Linked DNA regions of Homo sapiens. The protein of the gene in region 2 purifies or fractionates together with the protein of the main gene of each other region. This does not show direct contact. Each region holds a gene or a part of one and is shown on either strand. Other genes may lie near its edges. The genes, in order: EMC8 and OR1A2.

Evidence for each region.
Region 1: the proteins of OR1A2 (region 2) and EMC8 purify together in Homo sapiens (affinity purification with mass spectrometry; one large-scale study listed by BioGRID and IntAct). This does not show direct contact.

Annotation. Positions count from the first base shown.
Region 1 is NC_000016.10:85,786,045-85,789,544, forward strand, and holds part of EMC8 (ER membrane protein complex subunit 8), read right to left. Parts: intron 3,007-3,500; coding exon 2,930-3,006; intron 425-2,929; coding exon of another isoform or gene 327-424; exon of another isoform or gene 248-326; coding exon of another isoform or gene 213-247; exon of another isoform or gene 179-212; intron 1-178. UniProt on the Homo sapiens protein: Part of the endoplasmic reticulum membrane protein complex (EMC) that enables the energy-independent insertion into endoplasmic reticulum membranes of newly synthesized membrane proteins.
Region 2 is NC_000017.11:3,195,941-3,199,173, reverse strand, and holds OR1A2 (olfactory receptor 1A2), read right to left. Parts: upstream 1,656-3,233; coding exon 726-1,655; downstream 1-725. UniProt on the Homo sapiens protein: Odorant receptor.

The DNA.
Region 1 (3,500 bases), on a different chromosome or scaffold from region 2:
TAATAGAAAAAGTCATCACAGCACTAGTAACAGCACCAGCCACTACTGTAAACCAAGCACAAGGACAAACACACTGCGCAATTTCATTCTGTCCTCATGACTACTCTCTGAGGCATGAGCTCAGCTCCATTTTACAGACAGGGCCACAGAGGCCCAAGGAGGTTAATCAGTAAGTCACCTAGAATTTGAATCCAGGTCTACTTGGCTCCAAATCATGCTGCAAGACACTGTGAATGAGGCAATATTTCTAGAATAAGAAGAGCAAATTTTCAGCTAGGTCTGGCTGAAGAGAGGGGAAGGTTTTCCAGGCAGAAGCAAAACCATACTTAAGTCAGAAGTTGGCATGATCCTAGCTCCTGAGCTCCCAAGCTGTGTGGCCTCTGAGAAGCCACCTTCTCCGGCTGGTTTCTTCACTTGTGCATTGCTGTGAGGATGAAATAAAATGACCCCGATAGAGCCCAGGGATAGCACGGCATTACCTACCTGAGGTGTCCTCCTCAAACAACTGGGCACAGCGGGGGAGGGGGAGGTGGATTCCCTATTCCAGGGTGGCAGACTCCTAGCTAAGGTTTATCCTCTCTACACATCTGACAAATGGCTGCTCCGGATGCATTTAAAAGTCAGTATTAATGAAGGACTGCAAAACCTCCTGGAGGACGCAGAAGGACGTGGACTAGGTGAGGATAGGGAGGACATTCTAGAAGGAAGGTATGGAGAGCAGGAAAACTGTGTCCGAGTAGGATAATTCCAGGCTGGGCTGTAACGAGGTCAGCACAGAGGTAAGAACATGAGAGCTGTGAGCCAGATGAGGCATGCGCAGAGAGGAGCATAGGAGAGCCTGCGCAGGTCCATGTGGGGCGACCACATCAGGCATGGATTTGCAGGTGGGGGATTAAGGAAAGGGAGGCCCCTGCCCTCATCTGACAACCTGGTGCCATTCCCACTTGCCCAGTCTCCTCTCCCTTCTGCAGGGACAGCCACGGCAGACACTGCTTGGTCCAGGAACACCTTCCTGCCAAGGGTGCTCCCCACTGCTTGCAAGGTGAAGTTCAAAATGCTTCTGAGCACAGAGGAGCCCTCAGCTGTGGCCCAACCTACCTGTGCAGCCTCACTTCCTAGCATCTCCCTCCATGTGGGCACGGCCCCAGCCCTTGCCACGTCCTCACCTGTGTCTGCTGTCCCCCCAACCAGGAATGCTGACCTCCTGGTCTCCACGTCTGCACTTGACAAGGCCCTGCTCACTCTCGAGGGCCTGGTTTACAGGACACCATGCCCTGGACTTCTGGGATCATCCTACCAGGTCTAAGTCTCCCGGCCCCTGCCACCAAGCCCCCTGCAGGGGCCGCTGTCCTGCACCACAGCCTGTGTTTGCACTGTCCTTCATGTTCAACTCAGCCACGTGAGGGCAAGGGCCAGAGGGCTGCGCTTTCCTCAGCCCACGCCTAGTCTTTCATGTAACAAAGACTAAGATGGATGTGGCCCCGTGGGTAGGCTCTCGCTCAGTGAAGGCACTGAGAGGGGAGGCACTGATTCATCAACAAAGGGAGGCAGGCGATATCAAACAGAGGACATCCCAGTGAGAGTCAGAAGAGATGCGCTGAAGGCGGAGAGGCCAGTGCTGCTCGTGGGCTCAGAGGAAGCAGCAGAAGAGCCAATGTGCATGGGGATTCCACGCACTCCCAACCGCCTTGGCAGAGGCTTCAGCGGACTGACTTTGAGTGCAGCATCTCCTAGGACATCTGCCTCCCTCAGGATCCTGTGCCTGGACCCAGCCCTCCTAGGGTAAGATAATTATGTTTCTAAATTTGGGTTTCTTTTAGGATACCATGTTTCTCATCAGAAACACTGGTGCCTCATCAGTGATAGCAATGCTGTCACCAGCTTACTGTATTATTTCCAAAGTGCTTGAGCTCACCTTCTCATCTGTGCTGAGCAAGTGGACCCAACGGCAGGGCCCTTCACTGCACCCCCATCTCCCTGGACACTGGAGGGTCGGCTCTATCTGACAACATGAGGAAGCCACGTCAGGGCAGCCTGACGCATGCCCGTTATATACGGCGTGGACTTTCCAGCTGCCCATCTGGCTTCTGGCTCGGTTCAGCCAAAGGAAAATGGAAGGGGGACATCATGTACTGACTGCTCTGGGCCACCTCTCCCCTAATGGGAGGCCACGTCAGGCTGGCTGTGGCCACCTGCCCAAGGGCACTGCTTTTCTCAAGGTGGACTTGTTTACCCAGCTCCTTCCTCCCCACCCTTTGGGCTGTTGTCGCCAGCCTTGTTTACAGCACGACCCCCTGTGCGTTATCTACGGCCCAGGCCTTGTCAACAGCCTGCTTATTAAGCCCTCCTCAGATTATCACCACCTGAGTGTGTCATCTGTTTTTCTGTTGGGACCAAGATGACGCAGACATATAGAAAAATTCTCAGCTTTGTTATTAGCGAGAGCCCCAGTTGGGGAAGGATCTGGATAAAGGAAAAGAAAGAAGGAGCCAGTATAAAGGGGGCAGCAAATACCACATTTTCATCAGAGTACTGACCCCAAACCTACAGGCTGGTCTATTTACCGGCAAATAGAGCAACATTCCTTCCCAGTGCTCTGCCCAACACCACCCCTAGTCTGGGAAGGGGAAGCAAGGCAGAGCTGAGCAGGGACAGAAGTCGGAAGCCAACTGTCGCTTTCATTGTATGAATTCCCTTCATGCAAAATAAAGAAGACACAAAACAGAATTCCAAAGTTAATAGAAATGTTTGGAATTTCTGTTGTTTGGAATTATCCACACCACAGTTCGCCTCAAATACTACAAATAAGCACAGAGGGAAGGGGTGTAGGTCTCACAGGTTTCGTATCTGGCCGAAAAGCACACGAGAGACGGGGTCTGCCCAACACGTGCTCACTTCCTCGCCCACAGAGGGTTCTGCATCCACGTACCTGGCATCCTTTACTCGCTCATTAGCTTGATAATAACCAGCAATCACGTAGCTATGATCTTTGCACCATGAATCAATCTGAAAGAGGAACAAAAATTGGGAAAAGATGAATGACTCTCCCTTAAATATCAAGTCGTAAAAACCACAGATCTCACTGCCACATGCTGGGACAAGACATGACAGAATCTTAATCCTCATACCCTACACCCCAGAAGAAAGGGTAGGACTCAGGAAAAAATGGTCAGGAAGGGCAGGACTTTGAACATAAGGAATGACTATCTTCCTCAGTCCCAGCGAGAAGACCCTTTGTCTACAGGTACTGGATTGGTACAGTGCTGCAGAGAGTCAGAGGGAAGATGACCTTCACCTACCTTCTCTTATACTATAAAGAACTGGGGCTTTAGAAATGCTTAAAATTATTTAAATCATTATCCTTCATAGTTAAGGAAACAAAGCTTAGAGAGGTTCTAAGTTTGCACAACCAGATAGAAACAGAGCCAGAAGGGAATCTCAGTCTCTTTCAAAACAAGTCTTTTAGGCCAGGCACAGTGGCTCACACCTGTAATCCCAGC
Region 2 (3,233 bases):
TTAGTCTCTTTCAGGATACACCTATGTAGCCAATTCTCTGTATCAAATCTTCTTGGTATAAATATACCAAGTGTGATTTCTGTTTCCTGCATGGATCTTAACTGACCTTAACAGACATACCAGCTCTATAATACATGAATGAATACTATGCAGTTTGATTATGTTTATTCATTATCAGATTGTATTTCAGAAACTAATATTTTTATACATTTTCCTGCTTTCCACCAATATTTTATATGATCAAAATACTAAAAAAGTAAGTGATATGTTAACACAGCTTTTGCCACCAGAGTACAAGTATAGTAGGGGTGGCTAGACATAAAAGTCCAGTAAAGATTACATTAGAATAGTAATTTGCAGCCTTCAAAGCATGAGCCATTTTGATATACACAAGCTGTGTCAGAGAGTCCGGCAGATATTATTTTCCTAACATGTAGATATGCAAGCTGAGACTCAGACTTTTTCAACTTTACTCTGCTAGTAAATTTCTGCTAACTGGGACATGAACCTGATATTCCCAGCCTGCCACTCTCTCAAAAAAGAGCAGGAATTTGTCCAAAGTGATAATTTCAATAAAATATCACATCCGTTACAAGATTTCTGGTAGAGGAATTTCTGGCTCAAAAGAACAAAAGGAGCTTCTTGAAGGGCAATGACATTGGAGCTGGATTTCCAAGTGTATCCCACTTGGTCATTACAGTATCCAGCGTGTAATCTCACAGCGGCTATGAGGAGATTCTCTTGCTGAAGAGTTTCTGTAGGGCTGCCTTCATATCCCAATTTCTCAGACTATAGATGAAAGGATTTAATGCTGGGGTCACTGCCACATACATCACAGTTATCACTGCATCTTTGGGGCTGTAACTGGTCAGAGGGCGGAAATACATGCCCATCGTTGTACCATAATATAAAAAAACAACTGTGAGGTGGGAGCCACAGGTGCAGAAGGCTTTGAATAGACTCTTGGTAGATGGAACTTGGAAGACTGTGGAAAAGACCTGAACATAGGAGACAATGATGCATAGTAATGGCAAAGAGAAAACGCCGACCCCTAGGTACATCATCTTCACATTAAAGTGGACGTCAGAACAGGACAACTTCAGCAAAGGCATAATGTCACAGTAGAAATTGGCTACTTCCTGGTTGCCACAGAAGGACAAACTAGCTGTGAGCAGAGTGTGGGGGAGAGCACTGGTGTTTCCAATCACCCAAGACCCAGCAATAAGCAGGATACAAGACCGTGGACTCATAATTGTTGTGTAATGAAGTGGGCAGCTGATGGCCACAGCTCGATCGTATGCCATTGCAGCCAAGGTATAGCTGTCTGCCTTGGCCAAGGCTATCATGAAATACATCTGCATTAGGCATCCCCCAAAGGAGATGAACTTGCTCCCCAAGAGATGGTTGGCCAGCACCTTAGGGATGGTTACGGATGAGAAGATGATGTCAACCAAGGAGAGGTTGGCAAGGAGAAAATACATGGGGTTGTGAAGGCGAATGTCAGCACAGATGGCCAAGATGATGAGCAGATTTCCAGTCAGTGTGATGGGGTAAATGCACAAAAAAATCACAAAGAAGACATTATTCTGTTCTTGCTGACTAGTAACTCCCAGGAGAATAAAATCCAGGTTAAAGGATTGATTTTCTTTCTTCATGGCTTCTTCAGCATGAAAGGGGAGAGGAACCCAGAATTATTAGCGCAGTTAGTGTGTGTTATAGTCTGCCTTATCTACCACTTAAACGTTTTTAATTATTTTACAAATTCACCTGCTGTCAAACTTATCCACCACTTTTCATTAGCCATGGCTATACCTGGTTTTTACAATCATAAATATAGCCAGCACTTTTGGGTAAAATCTCTGTTGGTCAATGGGACGAACTCTCATTGACCTCCTGGACACTCATGTCAAAGAAGTTAGCGATCTGTGAAGTAAAGATGGTTGTCCTTCCAAATGTAGCACCACCACCTTAATATCTATAATTTAATCACATAACAAAAACCTAATTTCATGTTTCATGTCTTAGATTTTTTTTTACTTTGTAGAGAAACAATAAATATGTGAAAATACAGTTATTCATCCACTTATTTGTTACACAAGACATAGCATCTGTTCTCAAGGACCTTATAATTGAATAGGAAAGCCAGACTCACACAATAATTTTATTACACATGGTAAGAAAAGGATAGCCTCTTGGAGTCCTTGTGAAAAAAACAAACAAAAAATCCTCCAGTGCAAAGGATGTATCATAGTAGGAATGCAGTGAACAATTTAAAGTTGTTCCTCCAACCAGTCTCGGGGTGAGCCCAGAGCCCAGGAAGTCAGAGGTGTCTACACTGCCATCAGATTCTAAAACAGAAAGACAACTGGCATTAGGTCCTAGAAAAACAAGCTCAGTGAACTTACTCCACAGGTGTTCGATTTTCAAAGATATTCCCTATCTTTTTGACAGCTTTTCTCTCTTTTCAAAGCCCATAACTATACATAATCACAGTGCTTTTTCCACTGGCCTTTGTCTTGGTTCATTTTGTGTTGCTATAACAGAATACTTGAGACTGGGGAATTTATAAGAAAAGAGGTTGAATTGTCTCATGGATCTGTAGGCTGGGACATTCAAGAGCGTGGCCCTGGCTTCTGGCAAGGGCTTTCTTGCTGCATCATAACCTGTCAGAGAAGGTCAACAGGGAAGTGGATACAGGGGAAGAGAGAAAACCCGAGAAGTATACTGGTTTTATCACAACCCACTCCTGTAGGAACATTCCCTTAAGATTAATCCAGTCTTGAGAGAATGAGAACACACTTACTACCATGAGAACAGCACCAGACCACTCATGAGGGATCCACCCCCTTGACTCAAACGCTTCCCACTAGGCTTTACCTCCCAACACCTCCCACACTGGGGATCACATTTCAACATGAGTTTTGGTGAGGGCAAACTCAATCCATAGCAGTCTTCTCTTCCTTGTCTTCCTTATTTCTTTTTGTAGTAATCCAAGTCCACAGTGGATTCAACTATTCTTTAGTAAACTGTCATGTCTGTATCTGTGGTCTCGATTTCTTTTTCCCATATTTCCATATTCAGTCATCCTGCTAACATGTCTGACCAAACCCCACACTCTGCACTTAAAACCTAAGTAGTTTGCAAGATGTTTCTTTTCTTTTTTTTTTTTTTTTTTTGAGACAGAGTCTCACTCTGTTGCCCAGGCTGGAGTGCAGTGGCGAGATCTCAGCTCA